Homo sapiens: one gene and its partners. The protein of the gene in region 1 purifies or fractionates together with the protein of each later gene. This does not show direct contact. Each region holds a gene or a part of one and is shown in the gene's direction. Other genes may lie near its edges.

Region 1 (2,314 bases):
TAGGGTAGACGAGAAGACTCTGTGGGGTGTTTGCTTCTGAATTATCTGAGTCTAAAGACCTGTACTTCCACCCTTGCCCTCTACTTTGTCCTGCTGCTTTGAGCTGGACCTCGCAGAACAGATTCTGAGAGGCTAGGGGCAGTGGAGGGATGTAACAAGGGGAGCTCATCCCAGGGACAAGGAGTGCCCCGCCTGGCTGCATGGAGTTGTGGGAGGGGCAGTTGGCGGGAGGGGTACTGCCAGCAACACTAATGACCTGTTTTCATTTCCACTTCCAGATCAGGCGCCACCCCAGCTTTAAGAGGTTTTTTTACGAGTTCTCGGACTCCTCCCTCAGCAAGCTGGTAGCCACCCTGCGCAGCCAGGTGGCTCACTCCTCTAAGCTGGACAGGAACCGCGCCAGGAGACTCTACCAGTTTGACGTTAGCTTAGCTAACAAATTTGCTGGCAGCAACAGCCATGCCATGTGCATCCTCATGGGCCTAAGAGACCACTACAATTGCACCCAGTTCCCATACAGGGAGGACCAGCCGGTGAGAGAGGGCGGGGAAGACAATGGCAATGTAGCATGAGTGACAGCAGGCTCACAGCTGGCCTCCAGTGGGATCTACTTATCCTCCTCTCCCCTCCCCTGCTCAGTTCAGAATTTTTGGGTCTATCTCAAATGTCACCTCCTCACTGAGGCCTTCTGAGACAATTCTAAACCATGACAACCTTTTTCTTTTCTGAAACCTCACTGATTTTACTCCATAATTAACATCTTGTTTATTTGGCTCTAGTCTTCAATTACATGTACATTTCCATGCTTTTTGATAGAATGGCATATTGGACTGGCTACGATCTTAGCTTGCCTTGTTATTATTTTGTGGGCTCTGTTGCTTGGCTTCTCAATTCTAGGCTGTCATAAAATGTAAATAACAAAGTAAGGTTATCTATCAAATAAGGGGTGGCTGAGATAGACAAGAAGGCTCCATGGGCTGTTGGTTCTGGAAGGCTTCCAGGAGGCGATCACTCACTGACCTGGCCTTGGTTGCTTAATGAACAGCCTCTCTCCTGCCGTCACCTTCACTGTTCTGAGTGCATTTATGCTTTTCCTAATAATTTCGCCTCCCCCAAGTCTCTGAGATATTCCCTTCAGAGATGATGCTTGTCACTGATTTTTTTTTGAGACAGGGTCTTGCTCTGTCACCCAGGCTGGAGTGCAGTGGTGTAATCACGGTTCACTGCAGCCTCAACCTTCCTGGGCTCAGATGATCCTCCCACCTCAGCCTCTCAAGTAGCTGGGACTACAGGAGCATGCCACCACGCCTAGCTAATTTAAATTTTCTTTTTTTTTTTTTTGGTATAGAGATGGATTCTCACTATGTTGACCAGGCTGCTTTTGAACTCCTGGCCACAAGAAATCTTCCCACCTTGGCCTCCCAAAGTGCTGGGATTACAGGCATGAGCCACCACAGCTGGCCTGATTTTTTAAAAATTCTGAGCTCTCATATTTTCTGGTGGACTCTGATAAAGATTTCTTCATCCTTTTCTAATTCACTTAACATAACCTGCTTACAAACATTTGACCCAGATCCACAGCGTAGAAGCCTCTGAATGAAGGTGTAACTTTAGAGGAATGAAATGTTCTGTTTGCTGGTGTTGGACAAACAGGACCGGAACTTCTACATCCAAGTGGTCCCCTGGGAAACCTTTTGCAATGATGCTACTATCACCCGAAACACTTCTGTCTTTCTTGGAATTACCTTTAGAAGCCATTTGAAAAGTCTCTCAAGAGAGCTGGCTTATTTCATGGTAGTTGTATCTTGTCATTCAAATGCTCTCCTCTACTTCGGTTCATTTTCCTGGTCAGAAATCCTCCTTACCATGGACCTCTCTCTCTCCTTGGCTTCACTGTCTTCTCCTAGAGAATAGGAATGTTACAGATAATTTGCCCTCTAGGGTGGCTTAGGTAATAGCTTACAGATCGATCTGAGTTATTCGTGAAAGATATTATAGAAACATCAGTTCTGACATCCTCAGTTGCCCTGACTCCATCTTCTGGTTTTACTAACCATTCATTCATTCATTCATTCATTCATTTAACTGGTAGCTATTGACAGCCTCCTATGTGCTTAGTTGTGCAAAGGGCTGTGAGGCTCTGTGGAAGGTTCTGCCTTCAAAGGCTTCATCTGCCAATGGAAAAGACAACAGTTTGATGACAAAATTAAATAGCAACCAAATACCAAATGAGTGGTAGCTGAGGCCCATGAAGCAAGTAGGTCCTGGGAGCCTTCCAGGAGGTGGAGTTGCTGATTTTGACCTTTGAGAATGG
Region 2 (3,500 bases), on another chromosome or scaffold:
CCAAAAGGGATTCTAATTCTCATTACAAATCCTGCTTAAATCAGTGTTTCCCAAAGGTGGCTGTCATCAGAACCACTTGATAAGCTTTTTCAAAAAGTGGATCTCCAGGTCCCACCCCTGGAGGTTCTCACTCAGTAAATCTGAGGGAGGTCCTCGGAATGTGTGTTTTACTTCTTGAGCTTGGCAGGTGATTCGGATGATCAGTGCAGCATGGGAACAGCTGGGTTAGATGACACCATGTTACCAACAGACACATCTAGGGCTAAAAGGCTGGCTCAACCCAAGGCTGGAATGCTTAGGGCAGCTGCTCTACTCTGTAAAAAGTGGGAAAGCTGGGCATAGTGGCACGTGCCTGTAGTCCCGGCTACTTGAGAAGCTGAGGCAGGAGGATGGCTTGAGCCCTGGCGTTTGAGAGCAGTGAGACTCAGTCTCTAAAAACAGAAAAAAGAGGAGAAAACGGCAGGCCAAGCCCAGGTGTGCTCCTAGAATATGATCGGACTTTCGTGGGTCCCTCTGCCTGACACTGTGGTTGGCATGGATGATGGAAGGGGGAGAAGTATTTAGGGTGGGAGACGGGCTGGCCAGCAGCCGCCACAGCCCCTCATGTCTTGGACAGGGCTACCACTCCCTTCGGCAGCTTGTGAAGCTGTCCAAGCTGGAGGTGCCACAGGAGATCAAGGACGTGATTGAGCCAATCAAAGACAACGATGCTGCCATCCGCAACTATGGCATCGAGCTGGCCGTGAGCCTGTGCCAGGAGCTTCTGGCCAGTGGCTTGGTGCCAGGCCTCCACTTCTACACCCTCAACCGCGAGATGGCTACCACAGAGGTGCTGAAGCGCCTGGGGATGTGGACTGAGGACCCCAGGTGAGGGCAGTGGCCCAGAGATCCCCAGAGGAGGGTCCAAGAGCAGCCCCGGCTGCAGTGCTGGCTCCCCACGGTGGTACAGATGGATGTCTGTGCCATGGCTAGCTGGGCACATCGAAGGCTCCAGTCTCAGAGGGCATCAGATGGAAGAACTCAGCCTCAGGGGTGCTCCCCTGCTTCCGGCTCCCTCTAGCCAATCCCTTGTCTCAATTCTCTGTCCCCATCCTCACCCAGGCGTCCCCTACCCTGGGCTCTCAGCGCCCACCCCAAGCGCCGAGAGGAAGATGTACGTCCCATCTTCTGGGCCTCCAGACCAAAGAGTTACATCTACCGTACCCAGGAGTGGGACGAGTTCCCTAACGGCCGCTGGTGAGGGCCTGCAGACCTTCCTTGCAAATACATCTTTGTTCTTGGGAGCGGGAGGGCAGAAGAAGTTTGCATGCTTGTGGTTGACCTGGGAGGAGTCAGGGGCAGAATTTACAGGAATGGCCTCCTGGGCATGTGGTGGCACTGCCCTCTGTCAGGAGTGTGCCCTGACCTCTGGGCACCCCTCTGCCAGGGGCAATTCCTCTTCCCCTGCCTTTGGGGAGCTGAAGGACTACTACCTCTTCTACCTGAAGAGCAAGTCCCCCAAGGAGGAGCTGCTGAAGATGTGGGGGGAGGAGCTGACCAGTGAAGAAAGTGTCTTTGAAGTCTTCGTTCTTTACCTCTCGGGAGAACCAAACCGGAATGGTCACAAAGTGAGTGATGCTGGAGTGGGGACCCTGGTTCATCCCCTGCCCCTGGCCTGACCCCAGCTGCAGGCCAGGCTGCGGGGCTGTGACTTCCCCATCCTGTGCCCTCCCCTCCATGCTGTGGACATGGCAAAGGGAGAAGGGTAAGTTGGGAGACCTCCACCTGGAAGGGCTTAGGGAGGCAAAGACAGGCTGGGTCTTTGTTGGGGGCCGTGAGAGGGACTCAGGGTGCCAAACCTGATGGTCGCCCCAGCCAGCTCACCGTCTCTCCCAGGTGACTTGCCTGCCCTGGAACGATGAGCCCCTGGCGGCTGAGACCAGCCTGCTGAAGGAGGAGCTGCTGCGGGTGAACCGCCAGGGCATCCTCACCATCAACTCACAGCCCAACATCAACGGGAAGCCGTCCTCCGACCCCATCGTGGGCTGGGGCCCCAGCGGGGGCTATGTCTTCCAGAAGGTGTGGTAGGGAGGCACGGGGTGCCCCCCTCTCTTGACCGGCACCCGTGGGTTCCCCAGAGCTTAGGGCAGAGCAGCCTGCCTCTCCTGGGCTCTTAAATTTTGAATGAGCATGGATTGGAGCGGATGGGAGCTCATGCTTTAAGTCAGATAGACCTGGCTGGGCACGGAACCCGGCCAGCACTTTGGGAGGCCAAGGCGGGTGGATCACTTGAGCCCAGGAGTTCGAGACCAGCCTGGGCAACATGGTGAAACCCATTCTCTACAAAAAATACAAAAATGACCGAGGCATGGTGGTGTACACCTGTAGTCCCAGGTACTTAGGGGGCTGGGGTGAGAGGATCGCTTGAGTCCGAGAGGTTGAGCCTCCAGTAAGCCATATTTGTGCCTCTGCACTCCAGCCTGGCCCACAAAGTGAGACCCTGTCTCAAAAAAAAAAAAAAAAAAAAAAAAAAAAGATTGGCTGGGCTTGGTGGCTCATGCCTGTAATCCCAGCACTTTAGGAGGCCAAGGTGGGCAGATCACAAGGTCAGGAGTTCGAGACCAGCCTGACAAACATGATGAAACCCCATCTCTACTAAAAATACAACAATTAGCCGGGTGTGGTGGCGGGCACCTGTAGTTGCAGCTACTTGGGAGGCTGAGGCAGGAGAATCGCTTGAACCCGGGAGACGGAGGTTGCAGTGAGCTGAGATCATGCCACTGCACTCCAGCCTGGGCAACAGAGCAAGACTCCATCTCAAAAAAAAAAAAAAAAAGATAGAAATCAGACCTATGGAGGCAGGTCACTCGACCTCTCTGAGCCTGGTTTTCTCGTCTGTAAAATGGGATGTAGCTTGTGTTCTGGGCATGAAACCTAACAAAGCATGTAACGTGCTTGGCACATGGTAAGAGCAGGAAGCACTCCCTGAAAGGCAGCTGCTGTTACTATCCTGAGTTGACACCTTTCTCCCAGGGCTGCTGGAGTTAACATTATGTTCTGATCTAAGGCCCACAGGCCCTGGAGCAGAAAGACCTGAGTTTAAGGACCAGCTCTACTGTTTACTGTCAGAGTAGCCAACGTGCTCAACTTCCCTGAACCCACTTTCCTCACGTGGGGCTCACTGTGCCCAGCCTCCCGTATTATCAGCATTCTAGCAAATGAGTTTGAGTAAACCCAGCTTAATCCCTGATAGGCACTGGTTCTAGAGGAGATGTCAATGTCATTGTCAGCTTGCACTGGGGAGGATGGAATGTGTGGGGCCTCTCTCCCATGACTCGGCCTGTCAAACCAGTTGCTGCTGTTCAGAAATGGCTTCTTCGTGGAGTCTTCCCTGACTGATTGGGAGAGGGGTGGCTGATAGCCCTCAGACCTGTCCAGACTGAGAAACTCACGTCCCCACTCCCCTCACCCTTTGCTTATGGACGTGCCAACGCCACAGTTCATTATTCCGCCCACATGGC
Region 3 (3,500 bases), on another chromosome or scaffold:
ATCCCTAATTAGAAAATCCAAAATGCTCCAAAATCCCAAACTTTCTGAACACTGACATGCTCACATGACCATTGCAGCATTTCAGATTTTGGATTCTTGGATTAGGGATGCTCCTGCATTCTACAAAGATTCAAAAATCTGAGAATATCTGAAATCTGAATGCTTCTGGTCCCAAGCTGTCTAAATAAGGGATACTCAACCTGTATTGATTCGTGTGGGCACTAAGCTACTTATTTTTCTCAATTAGTTTTCTTCTTCCTATAAGATGAATTGAGGCTGCGCGCGGTGGGTCACGCCTGTAATCCCATCTTTTTGGGAGGCCGAGGCAGGCGGATCACCTGAGGTCAGAAGTTTGAGACCAGCCTGGCCAACATGGTGATACTTCATCTCTATTGAAAATACAAAAATTAGCTGGGCATGGTGTCACGCATCTGTAGTCCCAGCTAGCCAGGAGGCTGAGGTGGGAGAATCACTTGAACCCGGGAAGTGGAGGTTACAGTGAGCTGAGATCACACCACTGCACTCCAGCCTCAGTGACAGAGCAAGACTCCTGTCTCAAAAAAAAAAAAAAAAACAAGATGAATTGAGATTACCTTTTTTCTTAAAATTAAACAGTAGAACCACCATTGTATGATTTTTCAAAAATTTGATTTTTTCTTTTGATATGGTAGGGTGGAATAGGGATTTATTCTTGATCTGAAGTCTAACGCTCTACCTCTGAGCTATCCCGCCTCCTGGGATTTATTCTTGAATGTTGTAGAAGCTTAGTCTGATTTTGTTTAACTTTAAATATGCTTTGGAATAAGGATTGGCAAATAAAAATTCTGGTAATTTTAGGAGGAATTGACCTTTCTTACTAGTTGTTTTTTCTTTGGCTGCTGACGATGGGGAAATATTGAAGATTTTTTTTTCTTCATGTAACTATTAAATATTTATTTTGGAAAAGGAAAAGAATTTTATTCTATCTCTGAATCATATCTTAAAACATTCAGAGAGAGAAATGGAGGTGGATTACAAGAAAGAAAGGATTTTGTTTTATTTGCTTTTTTAAAGTTTTTTTTTTTTTTTCAAATTCTTTAAGATTATTAATTAGAGTTTGCACATTCCTGAGTTAGGTGAAAATTATCTTATTCCCTGTGTTTTTTGTTTTTTTAAACTTAAAGAGTTAGAAATGTGCTGCTCCTTCTGCGTGAAACAAATGATTCCACTCTGGAGAGAAATGAAACATGTTTGAAAAATGGGACTATGGGCTTTGAAAGATGGAAAGATGGGCTTTGGATATTTTAACATAAAAAACACCTCAGTTAGCAATGTTTTGTTTATTGTAGGGTATTTAAACATTTTTCCTTTGGAATATGCCTAGGTTGACACTGATGAGGGGCTTTAGGCTTTCTGATAGTTTTCCTGCTGTATTTCCGAAATATTTTGAAACTACTTTCATTTTTATTTTTAAAAATTATACCTAATGTGTGCATCTGTGTTATGCATGTTGGGACTAGTTAGCATGCACGTTATGCTTTATCAGCCCATTGTTTTTATCTGGAAACATGATGTTTGAGCTGCTAACCTGATTGTGTTTGTCTTTTAAAAAATCAGCTCTGTGTTCTTTTCGGTGAAATATATTTTGCATGTGTTTGGTGTGGTTTTGTGTATGTTTATTTTTGTTTTACATAGGGAGAACCTAAAGAAGTAGTTAAACCTGTGCCCATTACATCTCCTGCTGTGTCCAAAGTCACTTCCACAAACAACATGGCCTACAATAAGGCACCACGGCCTTTTGGTTCTGTGTCTTCACCAAAAGTCACATCCATCCCATCACCATCGTCTGCCTTCACCCCAGCCCATGCGACCACCTCATCACATGCTTCCCCTTCACCCGTGGCTGCCGTCACTCCTCCCCTGTTCGCTGCATCTGGACTGCATGCTAATGCCAATCTTAGTGCTGACCAGTCTCCATCTGCACTGAGCGCTGGTAAAACTGCAGTTAATGTCCCACGGCAGCCCACAGTCACCAGCGTGTGTTCCGAGACTTCTCAGGAGCTAGCAGAGGGACAGAGAAGAGGATCCCAGGGTGACAGTAAACAGCAAAATGGGTAGGTGGCTAAGGTGCTTTCTGCTCTTACTAAAACTCTTCTTTCAGGTAATTTCCAGGAAATACTCTACATTCCTCTCCCCCAAAACCAACTTTCTTTGAAGGAAGGGAGATGAAGTATTATTTGCCTCATTAACATATGGCCTTTATATACATAGGGTACTTTCTGCAAAGCAATTATCACTTATTCAAAAGCTACTTGTGCATTTTGACATGTTCTGAACCATGTAACATCTCTGTAACTCATTTTTTGTAAGTCCCGACACAGCATTGAGCAGCTGGCACTTGTAATGCAAGGCAAATCTTGAATCTTTCTTCCTCAATTTTTTCATTCTTTTAAATAGGCCACCAAAAGTTCAAACAGTGGTTACAGTTGCTGTCACCTTACACAACTCATCGTAAGGAGAGGGGAAATCATGAATTTGTAAGGGGTTTTTTTTCTAGGAGGTAATCTTAGGAAAACCAGTCCGCTTTTGACTCATGTCTATATGTGAAGCATTAGCTTAGAGCAGAGAGCTAACAACATTGTTTTCAGATAAGTTTAAGTTAGAATTTATTCTTTAAAAGCAGACAGTAATGAAACAACAAGGCACGCTTAGAAAGCATTAGAAGCAAATTATAAAATACTTTCATTGTAAACGTTTTCTGAAATGAGTAAATTTAAGCCATTGGACACTAAACATACATGTTAGCAGAACACTTTGAAAATCTGTTTCTTATCGTTTTTCCCTTTTGGGGGTATCTTTTTATTAAAAAAATTGGTTGAAGTTATTAACTTATTTGAACTACACATAGTTATAAGATCACACATCTGTTTTTCAGCAACCTTCAATTATTTGTTTATTTTTTTTTAACACTTTCGGTTCAAATATAATGTTATCAGATAGTCAGAAATTTATGTTGAGGAGCAAGGATTTAAGTTGGCCGTGAGAGGTTATGTACAGTATCTTTTTTAAAAATAATTCTTTTCTATAATGTAATCCTACTTGCAAAGAAAAAAGTAAAGAAAAGAGAGAGAATAATGATGGTCATTTTATTGCTTTTGGAATTCAGGGATGATACTTTAAGGCAGTCATTTATGTAAAATCATTTTTATCAGATTTATTGTGACAAAAATGTACCTTAAAAGGAAGACAAAGGGAAATAGTCTACAGGCCTGATGGTTTTTACCAATGCCAGTTCCCAGGAAAATATAATTAAAATACTTGTGTGGATAGGTCCATTCTCTGAGATAATCCCTTCTGAATGTTAATTCCTGTAATGAAGAGGCTGTGCTTTCTGTAGCACTGCTGCCATGGCAACTTTGGGGCTTTGAAAGAGAAGGTGGCAAAACTCCAGGCTGCTGCTGAGAGAGGGAGAGCAGGAGCTCTAGAAGAACAGCTCCTGGGCTGTACATACGGTCTTGAGG
Region 4 (3,500 bases), on another chromosome or scaffold:
ACTGCACTCCAGCCAGGGTGACAGAGTGAGAACCTGTCTCAAAACAAAAAAAAGATGTAGGCCATATACAATTTTAAAAGGCAATAATATACCATTTTCTTCACATTATAATAATAGTAACGAAATCTCAAGTTTATAATTGTTTATAGGTAAAGAAAATTTGAAATAACTTACTGGCGAAATTACTTTCAACATTTTCCCATGCACTGGTGATATGCTTTAGAATACTGTTATGAATATATAGCATTATGTACATAATCGCTGTCCCCTCTCATTGGTTAATTTTAATGAGTTTGATTTCAGTTTCTTTCTGCTGTTTTATTTCCATTTCTCACATTACCTAGCACAGTAATCCAAATTAGGGATAGAGGTCAGGTGCAATGGCTCATGCCTGTAATTTCAGCATTTTGGCAGGCCAAGGTGGGAGGATCACTTGAGCCTAGGAGTTTGAGACTAGCCTAGGTAACATGCATGGCAAGACCCCATTTCTACGAAAACAACAAACGAATAAATTAGGGATACATTCCTATTTGGGAATAGGGGTGAATTATCTATTTTCCTTGTCAGGAATTTACTAATGGGAAAAAAAATGGTACTATTCTTTCTATTTAGTGTTTATTCTCTACATAAAGCCCATAGAGGGCAGTATAGTTTATTTTTATTCAGTCATCTTTTCTACTGAAGAACTTAAAATACAAATAAAACTTCATATTTTACTTTTAATACAGTTATTACATTAGGAGTAATGGGTACTTTGGTATCTTTTACTGGTGCATACTCAAACCTTTTCAAATTATATCGTGTTTGTCTGGGATTTATTTACTTTAGAATAATCCAAGATGGGAGAGGAGAATTAATGTAGGATATTTGTGAAATGAGATTGGCCTTGTGTTTATAATCATTAAAGCTCGGTAATGGGTATGTGGAGCCTCATAATACTATTTTCTCTACTCTTCATGATTTTTAAATTTACCATAATTTTAAGAAAAACCATTCTACTAATATGATTTTCCATGCCTTTTCTGTTTTAGGAGCGAATGTGAATAGAACCACAGCTAATAATGACCATACTGTACTGTCCCTGGCTTGTGCAGGGGGTCATCTGGCAGTGGTGGAACTACTTTTGGCTCATGGGGCAGATCCTACTCACCGTTTGAAAGTATGTAACTCAAATGTTTGTGCAGAATTGTGAATTAGTATTTCTCTCTTGGTCATTGTTACAACATATCATGTACAAGTTCCATTCATAATGGCATTCTAAGTGTAAATTTTCTCCTTTTTCACTTGAAGCGTTCTTTACCAAACCTATGATTTTAATGCGTCTGGGACCTGTTGGCTTTATCTTCCTAAGTGATTCTGTAAACTAACTTATTTTTCTTCACTTTTTTTCCCCTTCCATATTCACTCTTTTAGGATGGCTCAACTATGTTGATAGAAGCAGCAAAAGGTGGCCATACAAGTGTTGTTTGCTATCTCTTGGATTATCCTAATAACTTGCTTTCAGCCCCTCCACCAGATGTCACTCAGTTAACTCCCCCATCCCACGATTTAAATAGGGTAAGATTTTAAAAATTAAAGCATTTTATGGTATGTCTTCTTTATCCTAATTCTTTCACTTACAGTTTCTGTTTAAATTAGGGTTTTTTTTTGTTCTAATATGTAGTTCTGTTTGTAAATATGTACTTGATACAGTTAATGAACATCTGGTACAATATTCAGATCCTAGATGATATGATTATGCTTTAGCTTTTAAAGGTCACAACTTGAATTCAAAGCCTACTAAAAAATGTCGTGGTAAACAATTTGGTGCCAACATATTTTAAGTAAATATGTCATTGTCTAAGATGACATATTAAAAATATTGTCAAAAAATCTCTAATTTATTCTTTATTTAGAGCATATTACTTAATGGATTGTGTAGGACACTAATAGTCACTTAGTGTCCTTTGTCTTAGGCTCCTCGTGTACCAGTTCAAGCACTGCCCATGGTTGTTCCACCTCAGGAGCCTGACAAACCACCTGCCAATGTTGCCACCACTCTTCCCATCAGGAATAAAGGTCAGTTATACTTCTAAAGACTGTTTCTTACTTGGTGTCCAGGTAAAAATAAGATTACCAAAAAATAGACATTTCTACAAACAAAGAAGTTTACTAAGTTGGCATTACTAAATTTTTAACCCATGATAAAAGCATGTTATTGGGAGAAAAAAATAGTTAATAGCACTAATTTGTGCTACAATTAGAAGTTTTAGCATGAGAAATTCAGATGCTCATCTTTGATGCAGTTCTGATTATCCATGATTTCCTTTAATAGTAATTTTTATTCATGTAAAATGTTAAGCTGGGTATAGTTGAGCAATATTTTTATAAATTACTTACCTAAATCTCTGCAGTTATAAAGGCATAAATTAACAAGATGTATCAAATATTAGAAATTTATTTTAGAATGACTGGCTTAATATAGATTTTATATCTGATCTGGGATACCTTTTCTCAACCAATAATTCAGTTACTTGAGATATGCTTGTTTATTTCTCTAGAATTCTGAGGTCCATATTTGACTTGTGTATGTTACACCATGTGTGTTCTTAAGTAATGTCCCCAAACATTTTATACCTACCGGTTTGAATCAGTTTTTCTTTTTAAAAGTTTTACCTGAAGAAACAGTGCAGTTTTTATTTTTTGGTTTTTGGCTACGTATACTCTTTTATGAACAAGAATGCTAAGTATTTTCACCAGCTCTTTTCAGTCACTACTATCAACCTAGAGCCTTGGCACCTTTTTCAGTTGGTATAGCAAACAATTGATTGCTATACCTATAGCCAGATCTGTCTGTTCACCTGGCTGTCAGAAGATACAGTGGATGGCATAGTCCAGCATCTTTTCTTCCAGGGAAACTGAATCCCAATTCTCTACTGGCCAGATAGCTGTGTGAATATGTGAATTTATATCTTGCCTCTATTAGTCTTGAAGATGGTAGGCCCCAACAAAGACATATATTTTACTCAGATTTTAATTTCTTGTTACTTCTTAGTGGTTTGGGTACTTTTTGTGTGTATGTGTGTGTGTTTAAAAGGCACAGACTATGAAATGTGAAAAAACCTGACTTAGAGGTCTGTTTCCTCTTCACCCTAATAATTTAGCATTATTGTTCTGTTCTTATGATGAGTTTTAACATCTTTATGACCATATAAAATATCTACACATAGCCTTAGATGTTACTTTAATTGCACACTTAGATATCACAAACCTGCATTCCTCTATTGTCTAATTTAAGCCATGTGCTATTTTTAAGATTCTGAAATTAATTTACAAAGATTTTGCACATAAAATACATACATTTTATATTTGTGAAAAAGAAGGTGGATTTGTTTTTAATTTTTTAACAGTGCATTTTCACCTGTTATGGATATGATTACTTAGTGCATAACTGTTGGCACTAAACCTCCCAACAGTAACTCTGTAATGAGGATGCCATTCATGTGCACTTCTGAGGGGGT

What was found. Proteins that work in one complex are often made in the same cells at the same time.
Region 2: the proteins of BNIP5 (region 1) and MTHFR purify together in Homo sapiens (affinity purification with mass spectrometry; one large-scale study listed by BioGRID and IntAct). This does not show direct contact.
Region 3: the proteins of BNIP5 (region 1) and PDLIM5 purify together in Homo sapiens (affinity purification with mass spectrometry; one large-scale study listed by BioGRID and IntAct). This does not show direct contact.
Region 4: the proteins of BNIP5 (region 1) and ANKRD17 purify together in Homo sapiens (affinity purification with mass spectrometry; one large-scale study listed by BioGRID and IntAct). This does not show direct contact.

What each region holds. Positions count from the first base shown.
Region 1 is NC_000006.12:36,317,575-36,319,888, reverse strand, and holds part of BNIP5 (protein BNIP5), read left to right. Parts: intron 1-278; coding exon 279-533; intron 534-2,314.
Region 2 is NC_000001.11:11,792,465-11,795,964, reverse strand, and holds part of MTHFR (methylenetetrahydrofolate reductase (NADPH)), read left to right. Parts: intron 1-616; coding exon 617-867; intron 868-1,101; coding exon 1,102-1,236; intron 1,237-1,426; coding exon 1,427-1,607; intron 1,608-1,875; coding exon 1,876-2,058; intron 2,059-3,500. UniProt on the Homo sapiens protein: Catalyzes the conversion of 5,10-methylenetetrahydrofolate to 5-methyltetrahydrofolate, a cosubstrate for homocysteine remethylation to methionine. Represents a key regulatory connection between the folate and methionine cycles.
Region 3 is NC_000004.12:94,573,942-94,577,441, forward strand, and holds part of PDLIM5 (PDZ and LIM domain protein 5), read left to right. Parts: intron 1-1,674; coding exon 1,675-2,093; intron 2,094-3,500. UniProt on the Homo sapiens protein: May play an important role in the heart development by scaffolding PKC to the Z-disk region. May play a role in the regulation of cardiomyocyte expansion. Isoforms lacking the LIM domains may negatively modulate the scaffolding activity of isoform 1.
Region 4 is NC_000004.12:73,140,299-73,143,798, reverse strand, and holds part of ANKRD17 (ankyrin repeat domain-containing protein 17), read left to right. Parts: intron 1-1,031; coding exon 1,032-1,159; intron 1,160-1,413; coding exon 1,414-1,557; intron 1,558-1,955; coding exon 1,956-2,058; intron 2,059-3,500.